Linked DNA regions of Homo sapiens: region 1 is linked to region 2. Evidence: fine-mapped expression QTL. Tissue or cell type: testis. Region 2 holds a variant in brackets; the other region holds the start of a gene. All regions are shown on one strand. Distances are from middle to middle.

Region 1 (8,107 bases), 140 kb before region 2:
TAACATCACTAACATTTACCTTTACAATTCCTATGACCTATGAAGATGTAGAAAAGTGTTTATCACACTGATTTTAAATCCACTCTTAAATATCCAATAGGCAAAAGCTGGAAGAACTTAGAGTAGCCTTAAAACCTTAGAAGAAAACAATATATTATGGGATGAAAATGTGGTCTTCTGGGGTTAAGGGCTGATATCTTGGATCATTCTTCCTTCTGCTTTCTGTTCCTCCTGTGTTTCTGATAGGCAAGTTTCTTACCCTAACTTCAGTTCCAACTTACTTTCCACTGCAGCAAATTAAAAAAACTTTACACAAAAACTAGAGGTTTATCTGTAAGGGAGGTACTGTCTGAAGCTATTAAGAGTTTTTCTCTACTATGAAAGTGTAGAGGGTCCGATCATAATCAAAAGAGACGAGGTGACAAGGGGGTCATTAACATAAGCTAATTTTAAATAGGAGTGTCCATTTGGTTTAAGTGTTTAATCTGACAGCTTTCTGACTACGGAATTTGAAAATCCTCGCCATGGAAAGCCCAAAGAAAATTAATACTGTTACTTTCTTTGGTATACCCTATTCATCTCAAATGTGAATAATTGTTTATTTGCATTTTGTAACATTTCTAAAAATAGTCATTATGAACAATTCTTATTTTCTCATTCAAGAAGTTCCAATCAAGTTAAGTGGAAGTAATATTGTCACTGAGACTGTGGCATGCCCAAACATCTTATTTTCACATAATCTATCCCATTTCTAGCTCCCTTCTTTAGGTCATTTGGATACTTTATTCACCTGCTGAAATGCCTTTAAACCTAATATGAAAGATTAATTAGGGAGCTTACCTATATTTATGAAATACTTGCTTTGGTATAAAGAGCAAAGTGGACATTACTCCATGTTCTTTTTTTTTTTTTGTCAGTCTTGCTCTGTTGCCCAGGCTGGAGGGCAGTGGCATGATCTCGGCTCACTGCAACCTCCACCTCCTGGGTTTAAGCAATTCTTGTGCCTCAACCTCCAAGTAGCTGAGATCACAGGCATGTACCACCCTGCCTGGCTAATTTTTGTATTTTTAGTAGAGACAGGGTTTTGCCATGTTGGCCAGGCTGGTCTTGAACTCCTCGCCTCAAGTGATCTGCCAACCTTGGCCACCCACAGTGCTGGGATTACAGGCATGAGCCACCATACCTGGCCTGCTCCATGTTCCTAATCAGCTAAGACCTGCAAACAAAAAGCAGCCTACTCAAGATTCATAGGAAGCATTTTTACTTACAATTCCTCTCCTCGTTTGGCTTTCTTGTCTGAAACCAGATAGACAGTTCCAAAACTTCCACTGCCAAGTTTTTGTTGAAGCACGTATCTTCTTGCAATCAAGGTCTTTGGATAAGTGGAAATGGCTGTTGATCCACTCACACACTTAGCTGCCTCTTGGAATTTCAGCATTGCTCCAAACAAGAGAGAACTGGTTCATTCATTTATAGAAACTTAACATTCCAGTCTCCTAAGAAATGGTCAAATTCATCCAGTGTTGGTCAGTTCCTTAAAGATGAAAAGTTAAAAGATCAGGTCTAAAGGTTGCTAAACGATGTCTAACAAAAAGTGTTAAGTGCAGTGATATCTGCACCTTGATCAGCAGACTGACACCATATTGGTTAACAACTTGAAAAAAAATGTTAAAAGGTAGAGATACCACAAATTCCAGAAGGCAATCTTTCACAGGAAGAGCCTCCCTTTGTACATTGAAATTTGGCAGAAGTGAATTATAGCCAACTTTCCACAAATTTCTGGGATGTACATCTGTTTTACAATGAGCAATCTCTTCATTTATTTAAGATTTATACTCCCCAACTACTTATAAAAGAATCCAAATACAAGAACATTATCACCTCCTTAAATCTATACATCTGCATCAACCTTTTTGTAATGCCCTCTTCTCACCTTATATTTACTTTGGTTTACAAAGAGTGAGTTAGGATTAAACAAGGAATTAGCAGGTGCTGTTTCCTTTAGATTTATTTTTTTCTGTAGATGTTAAACCACAGTTTTTGTATTTATTAGGACAGATGCAAAGAAGGATAAGGATTGAGAATTTTTTCCCATGCTCAGCAAATTCTAGTTTCTGAAGTTCCTATTGTACACATTGTGTATAATCTCTCTGGATTAAAAACAGGAAGAGTTACAAATTCAATTCAAACCTAAAATCCCATTTAATGTCAGTGGAATATAAATGCTACAGATAAATCTGTAATTCCTCAGGGAGCTATGAGACGTGGCAGTTATGAAAGGCAGGACTGTTTAGGCCGGGCGCAGTGGCTCACGCCTGTAGTACCAGCACTTTGGGAGGCCAAGGCGGGCGGATCACGAGGTCAGGAGATCGAGACCATCCTGGCTAACACGGTGAAACCCCGTCTAATACAAAAAAATTAGCCGGGCATTGTAGCGGGCGCCTGCAGTCCCAGCTACTCGGGAGGCTGAGGCAGGAGAATAGCGTGAACCCAGGAGGCGGAGCTTGCAGTGAGATCTCGCCACTGCACTCCAGCCTGGGCGACAGAGTAAGACTCCATCTCAACAAAAACAAAAACAAAAACAAAAACAAAAAAAAGAAAGGCAGGACTGTTTCATATGAGTAGGTACAAAGTAAAATCACTTTTATTTCATCAGAATGTTAAATGTTTTGTTAGTTATCAAGAAAAGTGTGCTTTTGTTTTAAATCTATATAGAAATAACATTTTAAATTGAAAACTGCCTACACCTTGAAGTTAGGTTTTCATATTCAACAATTCCAAAGCTATGAGACAAAAACCTAGTTTTTAAGGATGGTCAATGGGCTTTACGTGGTGGTGTCCGTCAACCACAAAAACTACTAGGGCAATTAACCACAAAAATCCTCAAAACAGAACATAAGTAAATGCCCATTTACAACATTTTCCTTCTTAAAATGTATGAATCAGTTAAGTTGTACCTAATACCAGTGAGATTAGTTACCAGCTTTTTCTTTTCCCTTCCAAAGACACGTTAGTAAAATCTGCTGGAAAAACAACTACAGAGCAGGCCTCTAAATATACCTTTTGTTTTTACTTCCCCTTCACTGTCATAAAAGTGATGCCGTCTGGCCATACTAAGCTGTTCAAATAAATATATGGACTTACAGACTTTCCAGCTGAAAAGGGTCCTTCAGGTCACTCAGTAATTCTCCTTATTTTAAAGATGAGATTAAGGTTCCTTTTAGAGAAGGACAGAATTAGGGACGGACAGAATGAGAAGTTCACTTCTAGCGGCTCTTATTTTAAAGGACAGTCTAAACCCAGCAGTGCTTAAGTAGTCTGGTCCAGGCTGCAGAAGACTCTGGGACTAGGTTCCCTCCCGCCCACCCTCACAGACTCAGCCCTGCCACCCCCATCCCAGTCCACTTTTAGGTCATCCATTCCATTAGTCTCCTCTGCGCAACCATAAACCTACCCAAGAATGTGTCGCATTGTCTAGATTCTAGAACTATCTGTTCACTTGACAACACGCTCCCCCTCGAGGTTTGAGTGAACTTGGGCACTGCGAACACATCTTCTTTATTTCTGCATCCCCAATCCCTGGCATACCTCCTGGCATATACTAGGTGTTTAACAAACCTTGTTAAGGCAAGTAAGTGTCCAGCAGATCAACTGCCGCCCAAAGGAGAGAAAAAAGGTTAGTTAAGAAAGCTAGATGGGAACTTGGAGAAAGTTACTACCTTGTGCAAACTACCCGTTCTCGGTGAAACAGATCTGGCTGGGGGCAAAAGACAACGGAAGGAGTATTTATCACAAGTTGAAAACCAGTAGTTATCTTCCCAGGTAATAAGAGGAAGGCAATTTGTCACCAGTTTCTGCTACAGCACAAATCTACCTTTAAAGTAAATCTTAACCTTAAGGTAAAACGAACAATTCCTTGCTTCTTCACCTTTTTAAACATTTACATTTTGGCAAAGCAGGTTAACGTTTATTGAGGGGCACTGAGACTGGAGTACATCCGGAGGTAAGATGTCCAGGAAAGCGAGGAGATCGCAGCCATGGCGTCCTAGAGATTCGGAACCCAGCCCGGGCAGCTTGAAACCATTACCTTCCCCCTCGCAGGGGAGCCTGGCTAGCCCCAAGGAGGACAGTTCGCTTTACCTTTCCCTGTCGTGGTCGGAGCGGCGCCCGGGGCTGCCCAAGTCTTGCGGGTAATCGGGCAGGCCTCAAACTAGGGGCAACCACACCCACCGAGCGCCAGACACCGCGGGCCACGGCTGTTTGGAACCGTGGCCAGGGAGACGGCGCGGGGCATACTGGGAAGTCGGGGCGAGGCGGCACCAAGGCGGAAGTGTTCGCCGACCCAAGTAGGCGGAGAAAGCAGAGGAGGACCGGCGGGCCAAGCTTTCCTAGCCTGACAGCAGCCATTTCGGAACGTACGTCCCAGCCCTCTTTAGCTACTTAGCGCCTCTGGGCCCGAGAACACCTGCTCCTTGGCTCAGTCTGGCGCCACCGGCATCACGGAACTGTACTTCCCAGAGACGTCACACCGGGAGACTTCCGATTCCCGCTCTTGAGATTGGACTCTCACGTGCAGGAGCCAGTCCTCGCTGGGCTCTAGCGGGCTTCTGATGGAGGAGCTACTCCTCTGGGAGGACAGAGTAGGTGGGCTCTGCTGCAGGTCCGGGCGGCGGGTTGTGAGGGCCGAGGTGGCACGGTGTATGAAGGCCTGTGTTTGAAGACTTAGGTCAGACCTTTTGCCCGCCTTTCCCCTATGCAGCTCTATGCAACTGTCTGTGCAAGGTCCTGTAATTTGCGTAGGACGCCTTGACACAGTCTCTGCTTATGGACGCTTTACAAAACTATCTTGCAAAGAAATAAGTACTATACAGGATAAGGTTCTGAGATACTGACAGGGCTGGAACTAGGGTGAGATAAGTGTAAAATGTAAATGGATGCCAATAAAATTCAGTAATCAAGGTAAGTTTTAATGCAATCTCTAAAAATCAAAATTATAGCAAAAAAAATCCATGACTGACAAAATGTCACGATTTTAAGTAATAGTAACAGTACCGTGCTGTGCCATATTGAAGCCCGAGGTGTCAAAAGAAAAACCATCAATTCTGATCCTGCGAGTTAAGTTAGCCAGGTGAGGAAGCGTAGCTGGGCCAGATATGCAAAATAAGATGATGAAAAGAGCTCGTGGTTAGGGGTGTAACTGGATAGAGGGGTTCCTAGAGGCATGAAGCAGTTTTCCTTATACCAAAAACTATGCCAATTAAGAAGGGCCCACAAATCCAAAGCCTGAAAGAAGTTCCGTGACTGATTGTCAATACAAAAGAAAAACTTGATCCTTATCATAGGTCCTACACACCTTACTTTACTGAAGCCCAAATGCTTTGTGATTATGAGATGAATATGATATCTTTTTTTTAGCTTAGGACTTTTTACTTTGACCCCACAAAACAAATACTCTGTGCTGTAAGATGTTGACTATTACCACTTAAGAATCAAAGTTCACAGAACTTCTATACTGGTGTGTCAGTAATGGACTTCAACTGATTTTTCTTTAGAATTAGCAGCAGCCTCTGTCACCATCCAAAGATTACAACCCATGAAACCATTGAATTTGTGCCTTGTATCAGAAAGCAAAGGAGAATGAAAAAGCACAGCTAACATTGCTTGAGGATCTAGGTAAGAATTTATGATGTTGATATCTATGTTCTATCTAAAGAGCACTTCATAACATTTGCTATTGATTTAATGGTGCTGGAAGCAATGACTTGGTGCCCCATAACTAGCATCAATTGAAAATGTTTTCTGTTGTTTTAAACAGGCGATTAATTCTTTAGACTGTCATCATGGGTATCCGAGGACTAATGAGTTTTGTGGAAGATCATAGTAATGAGTTCTTCACTGATTTGAAGTTGCGGGACACAAAAATTGTCATTGATGGTTATGCTCTTTTCCACCGTCTTTGCTTCAGTTCAAACTTGGATCTCCGGTATGGAGGGGACTATGATTCTTTTGCAGATGTTGTACAAAAATTCTTTGAATCACTGTTTGCTTGTAATATATGCCCATATGTTGTATTAGATGGAGGATGTGACATTTCAGATAAAAAGCTTACAACTTTAAAGGATAGAGCTAGAGAGAAGATCCAGATGGCCCATTCCCTTTCTGTTGGTGGGAGTGGGTACGTATGTCCCTTACTCATCCGGGAAGTATTCATACAGGTTTTGATCAAGCTGCGGGTGTGTTTTGTCCAGTGCTTTTCAGAAGCAGATCGGGACATTATGACACTTGCTAACCATTGGAATTGCCCTGTGTTATCATCAGATAGTGACTTTTGCATTTTTGACCTGAAAACTGGGTTTTGCCCATTGAATAGCTTTCAGTGGAGAAATATGAACACTATTAAGGGCACACAAAACTATATCCCTGCCAAATGCTTTTCCCTTGATGCATTCTGCCATCACTTCAGCAATATGAATAAAGCTCTACTACCTCTCTTTGCGGTGCTATGTGGAAATGACCATGTTAATCTACCCATCATGGAGACATTCTTAAGTAAAGCGCGTCTTCCTCTTGGAGCTACCAGTTCTAAAGGGAGGAGACACCACCGAATCCTGGGACTTCTGAATTGGTTGTCTCATTTTGCCAACCCTACCGAAGCACTAGATAATGTTCTGAAATACCTCCCAAAAAAGGATCGAGAAAATGTTAAGGAACTTCTCTGCTGTTCCATGGAAGAATACCAACAGTCCCAGGTGAAGCTACAGGACTTCTTCCAGTGTGGTACTTATGTCTGTCCAGATGCCTTGAATCTTGGTTTACCAGAATGGGTATTAGTGGCTTTAGCTAAAGGCCAGCTATCTCCTTTCATCAGTGATGCTTTGGTCCTAAGACGGACCATTCTTCCCACACAGGTGGAAAACATGCAGCAACCAAATGCCCACAGAATATCTCAGCCCATCAGGCAAATCATCTATGGGCTTCTTTTAAATGCCTCACCACATCTGGACAAGACATCCTGGAATGCATTGCCTCCTCAGCCTCTAGCTTTCAGTGAAGTGGAAAGGATTAATAAAAATATCAGAACCTCAATCATTGATGCAGTAGAACTGGCCAAGGATCATTCTGACTTAAGCAGATTGACTGAGGTAAGTATTTGTAATACTAATGAAATTTTTGTAAAGTACTTTACAGGATACAAAGTGCTGTCTTCTATATTAGTTCACTTACTATAACAAACTGATGAGGTTGAGTGCTATCTTGCCCTCATGTCGTAGCTAAGAAATCTAGAACTTGAGTGAACTAGGTAATGTCTTAGCCAGAAAGTGTCAGTGCTAGGACTCAAACCTAGCTCTTTTAGCTCTAAATCTACCATTTCCACTGTACTTCAGTAGTCTGTGTTATCGTCACAGTTATTACTACTATATTGTTATTACTACCAGGTTAATACTAGCTATCAATAGAATGGGTTACGTGGCTGAAAAAAAAAGGAAAAAAATTCACAACTGCAAAAAAAGTGTATAGACACTAATCATAGGCACAACATCTCAGACTACATCGGATTTCAGATAAGGTTAGTACTGATGCTAAGGTCTAATTTTTTAACTTTTATTAATGAATACCTTTTTTAAAATAGGTTTTTGTGTCATTATGGTTATTTGCCTAGTTTGATACAGAAAACATGACTCTTAGTCTAACTTAGTGTTGCTTAAACCTGAGTAACACCCAGACCACCTTTTCAAGGAGAAAAAAATTCTCATGGATCCCAGTGTTGTCTTTTTATATTACATATATATTTAAAATTACAAATAGATATGAAACTATGCTGATAAAAGAACTAGATTTAGACATTAAATAGAGATAACTTAAAAAAAAAACAATTGCAATGCCCATTAGGGGATCTTCTTAGATCCAATGAAATATTCAGTCTCACAAAACTCACAGACCACACGTGGCACCAGTCTACTTAAGGATGTAGGACGGCAACCACAGCTTCCCAGTGGATTTAAGTCAGGTCTTCCTTTTCTGTCAGAGTTCTCCCAGCACTGTTATCAGTCTACACCAAAGCTTTATCACCATTGGTGATTTTGTCCCCCAGAGGACATCTGGCAAT
Region 2 (8,108 bases):
GCCACTGTATTGAGTTTGCACATTCTCCCTGTGTCTACATGGGTTTTCTCCAGGTATTCTGGTTTCCTCTCATATCCCAAAGTTGTGCATGTTAGGTTAATTGGCGTGTCTAAATTGTCCCAGTGTGAGTGAGTGTGTGTACATGTGTACCCTGCAATAGAATGGCATCCTGTCCAGGGTTGATTCCTCCCTTGAGTGCTGAGCCGCTGGATAGGCTCCAGCCACCTACAACCCGGAACTGGAATAATTGGGTAAATAATTACCTTATTTGTTTTATTAATCTTTCTTAAATGTATGTATAACTCACATTTATTTCAGTGTTTAATATTCGAAGTGTTTTGGAGAGCAGAGCAAGATGGCGGAATAGAAGCCTGTACCATTGATAACCCCCGACAGGAACAACACATTTTAACAAATATCTGCATACTGGAAAGTTTAACAACTAACTGCATACCATCACAAGAACCAAAAATCAGAGCAATCGGAGTACCTGGTTTTATATTCATATCACTGAAAGAATCATTGAAGAGAGTAGGAGAGACAGTCTTGAATCACAGACACCACCCCTTCCCCATAACCTAGCAGCAGCCCTGCTACACAGAGAGTATATGCACTTGGGGGAGGGAGAGTGCAGTGGCTAGTGGTCTTTCTATTGAACTCAGTGCTGCCATGTCACAGTGGAGAGCAAAGCCATGCTGGGCTCAGCCAGCACTCATGCATGAAGGGAACATTTGGACCAGACCTAGCCAGAGGGGAATGGACCATCCCAATTGTCAGAACTTGAGTTTTTTGGCAAGCCTCACCACCATAGGCCAAAGTGCTCTGGGGTTCTAGGTAAACTTGAAAGTCTGTCTAGGACACAGGGATTGCAGTTCTTAGGCAACTTCTAGTGCTGGGCTGGGATGGGCTTAGAGCCACTGGACTAGGGTGGTACATGACCTGGGGAGACACTAGCCAGGGAATCTAAGGGAGTGCTTGTGCCATCCTTCCCCCAACCCCAGGCAGCACAGCTTGAAGCAACAAAAGTGACTCCTCTGCGTATGAAGAGGAGAGCAAAGAAGACTTTGTTTTGCATCTTGCATACCAGCTCAGTCACAGTAGGATATGGCACTGGGCAGTCATGAGGCCCCCATGCTAGACCCTAACTCATAGATGACACGTCTAGACACACCATGGGCCAAAAGGTAAACCGCTGCCTCGAAGGGAAGGATCCACACCTGGCAGGATTCATCACCTGTGAATAAAGAGCCTTTGGGTACTAAATAATCAGCCGCAATACCCAGGTAGTGCATCATGGCATGGGCCTTGGGTGAGACTCTGAGACGTGTCTTCAAGTGAGACCCAGAACATTGCCAGCTGTGGTGGCTATGGTGAGAGACTCCTCTTGCTAGAGAAAAGCAGAGGGGAAAGTAAAGAGGACTTAGTTTTGCACTTTAGATACCAGCTCAGTCAGAGTGGGTTAGACCAACAAGTGGGCTCGTGAAGTCCCCAATCCCAGGCCTAACCTCTTGGATGGCATTTCATGACCTTCCCTGGGCCAGAGGGAAGCCCAGTGCCCTGAAGGGTATGTCCAAGCCTGGCAGCATTCACCACAAGCTGACTGAAGATCCTTTGAACTTTAAGTGAATACCAATGGTGGTGTAGAAAACCACCCATGGCCCAGTGATAGTGGTTGCCACAGGGAGAGGCTCCTCTGCCTGTGGAAAGGGGAGGGAAGAGCAGGAAGGACTTTGTATTGTGGTTTAAGTGCCAGCTTAGCTACAGTAGAATAAAACGTCAGGTAGACATACAAGGATTTTTGACTGCAGTCCCTAGCTCCCATACACCATCTCTGGACCCACCCGGGGCTGTGGGGAACTCACTGCCCTGAAGGGAAAGACACCAACCTGGCTGGCTTCACCACCTGCTAATGGTAGAGCCCTAGGGACTTGAGTGAACATGGGTGGTACCCAGGTAGTGGTTACAGAAAGCCATGGGCAAGACCTAGTGCTGTGCTGGCTTCAGGTCTGACCCAGCACAGTCCCAGTAGTGAGGGCCAGGGGGGTAGTATGTCACTCTACCTGCAGCCCTAGGCAGCTCAGCACAGAGAGACTTCATTTGTTTGGGAAAAAGTAAGGGTAAAGAACAAGAGTCTCTGCCTCATAATACAGAGAATTCTTCAGGGTTTTATCCAAGACCACCAAGGCAGTACCTCTACAAGTCTACAAGAACCACAACCTTACTAGGCTTGAGGTGCCCCCTCACGCAGCTATGGCTTAGACCACAATACCCTAGTTCTTTCAAATACCTGAAAAACCTTCCCAAGGAGGATGGGCACAAACAAGTCCAGACTGTGAAGACTACAATAAATACCTAACATTTCAATGCTTAGACACCAATAAACATCAAGACCATCCAGGAAAACATGACCTCACTAAATGAACTAAATAAGACACCAGGGATCAATCCAGGAGAAACAGAGATATGTGACCTTTCAGACAGAGAATTCAAAATAGCTCTTTTTAGAAAACTCAAAGAAATTCAAGATAACAGAAAAGAAATTCAGAATTTTATCAGATAAATTTAACAAACAAATTGAAATAGTTAAAAAGAAGCAAAACTTCTAGAGTTGAAAAATGCAACTGGAATACTAAAGAATGCATCAGAGTCTCTTAATAGCAGAATTGATCAAGCAGAAAAAATAAATAGTGAACATGTAGAAAGGCTATTTGAAAATACATGGTCAGAGAAGACAAAAGAAATAAGGATAAAAAAGAATGAAGCATGGCTATAAGATCTAGAAAATAGCCTTAAAAGGGCAATAACTCTTAAATTATTGGCTTTAAAGAGGACGTAGAGAAAAAGATGGGGATGGAAAGTTTATTCAAAGGGATGATACCAGAAAACTTCCTAAGCCTGGAGAAAGATATCAACACTCAAGTACTAAAAGACTGTAGAACACCAAGCAGATTTAACCCAAAGACTACCCCCAAGGTATTTAATATATCAGACTCCCAAAAGTCAAGGGTAAAGAAAGGATCCTAAAAGCAGCAAGAGAAAGGAAACAAATAAAATAAAATGGAGCTCCCAAATGTCTGGCAGCAGACTTTTCAGTGGCAATCTTACAGGCCGAGAGAGTGGTGTGACATATTTAAAGTGCTAAAGGAAAAAAATAAAATTTATTGTAGAATAGTATATCTGGTGAAAATATCCTTCAAGCATGAAGAACAAAGACCTTCCCAGACAAACAAAAGCTGAGGGATTTCATCAATGCTAGATTTGTCCTAAAATAAATGTTAAACAGAGTTCTTCAACCTGAAAGACAAAGATGTTAATGAGCAATAAGAAATCATCTATATGAATATTTACAACAAACCCTCATGACGTGTTTATCTATGTAACAAACCTTCACGTGTACCCCCAAATCTAATATAAAAATTAAAATACATATATATGTACAAACTCGCTGGTAATAGTAAGCACATAGAAAATCAGAGAATATTATAACTGATTGCAAAAACAAACTGTAATTGTGGCATGTAGAGTACTCAAGTAGAAAGTCTAAATGGTGAACCAACCAAAAATGATAACGACAACTTTTCAAGACATAGTACAATGAAACAAAGAGAAACAAGACGTTAAAAAGCAGGGGGACAAAGTTAAAGTGTAGAGTTTCTATTAGTTTTCTTTTTTTTAATGTGTTTTTGTTTATGCAATCAGTTTTAAGTTGTCTTAAGTTTAAAATAATGGGTTATAAGATAGTATTTGCAAGCCTCATCTTGAAAAACGTACAATAGACACGAAAACTATAAGAAGCAAGAAATTAAATCATACCACCAGAGAAAATCACCTTCACTAAGAGGAAGACAGAAGGAAGGAAAGAAGGAAGAGAAGACCACAAAACAACTAGAAAACACATAACAAAATAGTAAGAGAAAGTCTCTACTTATCAATAATAACATTAAGTGCAAATGGACTAAACTGTCCAACCAAAAGACACAGAGTGGCTGAATAGATTAAAAAACAAGACCCAGTGATCTATCACCTATAAGAAACACACTTCACCGGCTGTGCGTGGTGGCTCCTGCCTGTAATCCCAGCACTTTGGGAGGCAGAGGCGGGTGGATCACCTGAGGTCAGAAGTTTGAGACCAGCCTGGCCAACATGGTGAAACCCCGTCTCTACTAAAAATACAAAAATTAGCTGGGCGTTGTCGCAGGTGCCTGTAATCCCAGCTACTCCAGAGGCTGAGGCAGGAGAATCGCTTGAACCCAGGAGGCGGAGGTTGCAATGAGCCAAAATCGCGCCATTGTACTCCAGCCTGGGCGACAAGAGCAAGACTCCGTCTTAAAAAAAAAAAAAAAAAAAAGAAAGAAAAGAAAGAAAAGAAACACACTTCACCTATTAAGATACACATAGGCTGAAAATAAAAGGATGGAAAAAGATATTCCAAGCCAATGGAA[G/A]CCAAAAAAGAGCAGGAGTAGCTATGCTTATATCAGACAAAATAGTTTTCTTGACAAAAACTATAAGAAGAGACAAAGAAGGTCATCATATAATGATAAAGAGGTCAATTCAGCAAGAGGATATAACAATTATAAATATGTATGTACCTAACACTGGAGCACCCAGATATATAAAGCTAATTTTATTAGAGCTAAAGAGAGAGATAGACCTCAATACAAAATAGCTGGGGACTTAAACACTCCATTTTCAGCATTGGACAGACCTCCTAGACAGAAAATCAACAAACATCAAATTTAATCTGCACTGTAGACCAAGTGGACCTAATAGATATTTACAGAACATTTCATCCAATGGCTGCAGATTACACATTCTTCTACTCAACACATGGAGTAGTCTCAGGGACAGACCATATGTTAGGTCACAAAAGAAGTCTTAAACGTTCCCCAAAAATGAAATAATATCAAGCATCTTCTCTGACCACAATGGAATAAAACTAGAAATTAATAACGAGGAATTTTGAAAACTATACAGATACGTGGAAATTCAACAATATGCTCCTGAATGACCAGTGGGTCAATGAAGAAATTAAGAAGGAGAACGGGCACAGTGGCTCACGCCTGTAATCTCAGCACTTTGGGAGGCCGAGGTGGGCAGATCACCTGAGGTCAGGAGTTGGAGACCAGCCTGGCCAATGTCGTGAAACCCCCTCTCTACTAAAAGTACAAAAATTAGCCAGGCATGGTGGCCAGAGCCTGTAATCCAGCTACTCGGGAGGCTGAGGTGGGAGAATTACTTGAACCCGAGAGGCGGAGGTTGCAGTGAGATGAGATGACACCACTGCAGTCCAGCCTGGGTGACAGAGAAAGACTCTATCAAAAAAAAAAAAAAAAGAAGAAAAGAAAAAGAAAGAAAGAAAGAAAAGAAATTAAGAAAGAAATTGAAAAATTTCTTGAAACAAATGCTAATGGAAACACAACATACCAAAACATATCAGATACATTGAAAGAGGGAAGTTTATAGCTATAACTACTAAGAGGGAAGTTTAAGCTCTAAGTACCTACATCAGAAAGAAGAAAGAGGGTTGGGTGCGGCAGCTCACATGAGTGATCCCGGCACTTTGGGAGGCCAGGGTGGGCAGATCACTTGAGGTTAGGTCAGGAGTTTGAGACCAGCCTGGACAACATGGCGAAACCCTGTCTCTACTAAAGAGACAAAAGTTAGCTGGGCGTCGTGGCAGGTGCCTACAATCCCAGCTATTTGGGAGGCTGAGGCAGAAGAATTGCATGAGCCTGGGAGGCAGATGTTGCAGTGAGCTAGGCTGCACTCCAGCCTAGGTGACAGAGCAAAACTCTGTGGAGAAAAAAAAAAAAGAAGGAGAAGAAAGACTTCAAATAAATATCCTAATGATACATCTTTAAAAAAATTAGAAAAGCAATAGCACATCAAACTCAAAATTAGTAGGAAAAAAGAAGTAATAAAGATCAGAGCAGAAATAAGTTTGAAATGAAGAAAACAATAAAAATGTCAATGAAACAAAAAGTTAGTCTTTTGAAAAGATGAACAAAACTGACAAACCATTAGCCAGACTAACAAAGAAAAAAAAGGAAAAGACCCAAATAAATAAAATCAGAGATGAAAATAGAAACATTGCAACTGATACTACAGAAATTCAAAGGATCATTAGTGGCTAGTATCATCAACCATATGCTAATAAATTGGAAAATTTAGAAGAAATGGGTAAATTCCTAGACACATAACAACCTACCAAGATTGAACCATGAAGAAATCCAAAGCCTGAACAGTAACAAGTAACAAGATTGAAGCCATAATAAAAAGTCTTCCAGCAAAGAAAAGCTTGGGACCTGATGGCTTCACTGCTGAATTCTACCAAACATTTAAAGGTGAACTAATACCAATGCTACTCAAACTATTACAAAAAATAGAGGAGGAGGGAATACTTCCAAACTCATTCTACGAGGCAAGTGTTACCCTGATACAAAGAACAAAGACACATCAAAAAAAAATCTACAGGCTGGTGTCTCTGATAAATATTAATGCAAAAATCCTCAATGAAATACTAGCAAACCAAATTCAACAATACATTAAAGACATCATTCATCATGACCAAGTGAGCTTATCCTTGGGATGCAAGGATGGTTCAACACATGCAAATCAATTAATGTGATATGTCATAGCAACAGAATGAAGGACAAAAACCATATGATCACTTCAATTGATGCTGAAAAACCACTTGATAAAATTTAACATCTGTTCATGATTAAAACCCTTTAAAAACTAGGTAGAGAAGGAACATATCTCAACATAATAAAAGTTGTGCTGGGCATGGTGGCTCACGTCTGTAATCCCAGCACTTTGGGATGCCAAGACAAGCAGATCACTTGAGGTCAGGAGTTTGAGATCAGCCTGGCCAACATGGTGAAACCTCATCTCTACTAAAAATATAAAAAATTAGCCAGGTGTGGTGGTGCATGCCTGTAATCCCAGTTACTTGGGATTACAAGAGGCAAGAGAATCACTTCAACCCAGGAGGTGGAGGTTGTAGTGATCCAAGGTCGCGCCACTGCATTCCAGCCTGGGCAACAGAGTGAGAAAAAAAAAAAAAGAAGAAAGAAAAAAGTATATGACAGACACACAGCTAGTATTACCCTGAATGGGGAAAAACTTAGAGTCATTATTTTAAGACTGGAACATGAAAAGGATGCCCACTTTTTCACCACTATTATTCAACATAGTACTGGAAGTCCTAACTAGAGCAATTAGGCAAGAGAAATGTTCTTTAACATCTAAATTGTAAAAGAAGAAGTTTCATTATTTTTATTTGCAGATGATATGACTATATATTGGAAAAACCTAAAGACTCCACCAAAAACTATTAGAACTGGTAAATAAAGTCAATAAAGTTGCAGGACACAAAATCAACATACAAAAATCAGTAGCATTTCTATATGCCAACAGAGTACAATATGAAAAAGAGGTAAAAATAATCCCACATGTAATAGCCACAAATAAAATTAAATCCCTAGAAATTAACTTAACCAAAGAAGTGAAACATCTCTATGATGAAAACTGTAAAACACTGATGAAAGCAATTGAAGAGGATGCAAAACAATGTAAACATATTCTATATTCATGGAATGCAAGAATTAATATTTTTAAATGTCCATGCTACCCAAAGCAATCTACTGATTGAATGCAATCTCTACCAAAATGCCAATGACTTTCCTCAAAGAAATAGAAGTAATAACATGGAAAACATGGAGAAACGTCATCTCTACAAAAAACTTAAAAACTAGCTGGGCATGGTGGTGTGCACCTGTGGTCCCAGCAACTTGGGAGGCTGAGGTGGGAGGACTGCTTGAGCCCAGGAGGACAAGGCTGTGGTGAGCCATGTTCACACCACTGCGCTCCAGCCTGGATGAGAGAGAGACAAAGGAGGGGAAGGGGGAGGGGGAGGAGGAGGAGGAGGAGAAGAAGAAGAAGAAAAAGAAAAGGAGGTCTTAAAATAGGTGAGTAAGTTAAATTGCCACTGGCCAATATCTTCCACCAACTTTGAAAGCTTTGCTGACGGGTTGGTTGTTTTAAATTAAAACTGTGGGAAAAATTCTGTGTCATATCTGCAGGCCTCTAGCTGTGTTTGCATTAAT

Evidence for each region. PIP is the estimated chance that this variant, and not a neighbour inherited with it, causes the effect.
Region 1: NEK11 starts here. The variant in region 2 is fine-mapped to the expression of NEK11 in testis (GTEx, PIP above 0.99).

Annotation. Positions count from the first base shown.
Region 1 is chr3:131,023,040-131,031,146 of GRCh38, reverse strand. It overlaps NEK11 (NIMA related kinase 11), which reads right to left and starts at 4,270. Exons shown (of 18, transcript NM_024800.5): 1 at 4,141-4,270; 2 at 3,145-3,217; 3 at 1,269-1,534. The coding sequence starts at 1,438. ASTE1 (asteroid structure-specific endonuclease 1) reads left to right here and starts at 4,322. Exons shown (of 6, transcript NM_014065.4): 1 at 4,322-4,640; 2 at 5,553-5,673; 3 at 5,816-7,142. The coding sequence starts at 5,841. RefSeq lists enhancers at 3,961-4,150, 4,231-4,290, 4,431-4,670.
Region 2 is chr3:130,881,171-130,889,278 of GRCh38, reverse strand. All of the region lies in intron 1 of LOC107986023 (a long non-coding RNA gene), which reads left to right. It also overlaps a transcript of ATP2C1 not described here. Among named protein-coding and RNA genes, the nearest start is that of ATP2C1, 8.9 kb to the left of the region's middle. The variant G/A (reference allele first, on the strand shown) is at 4,443.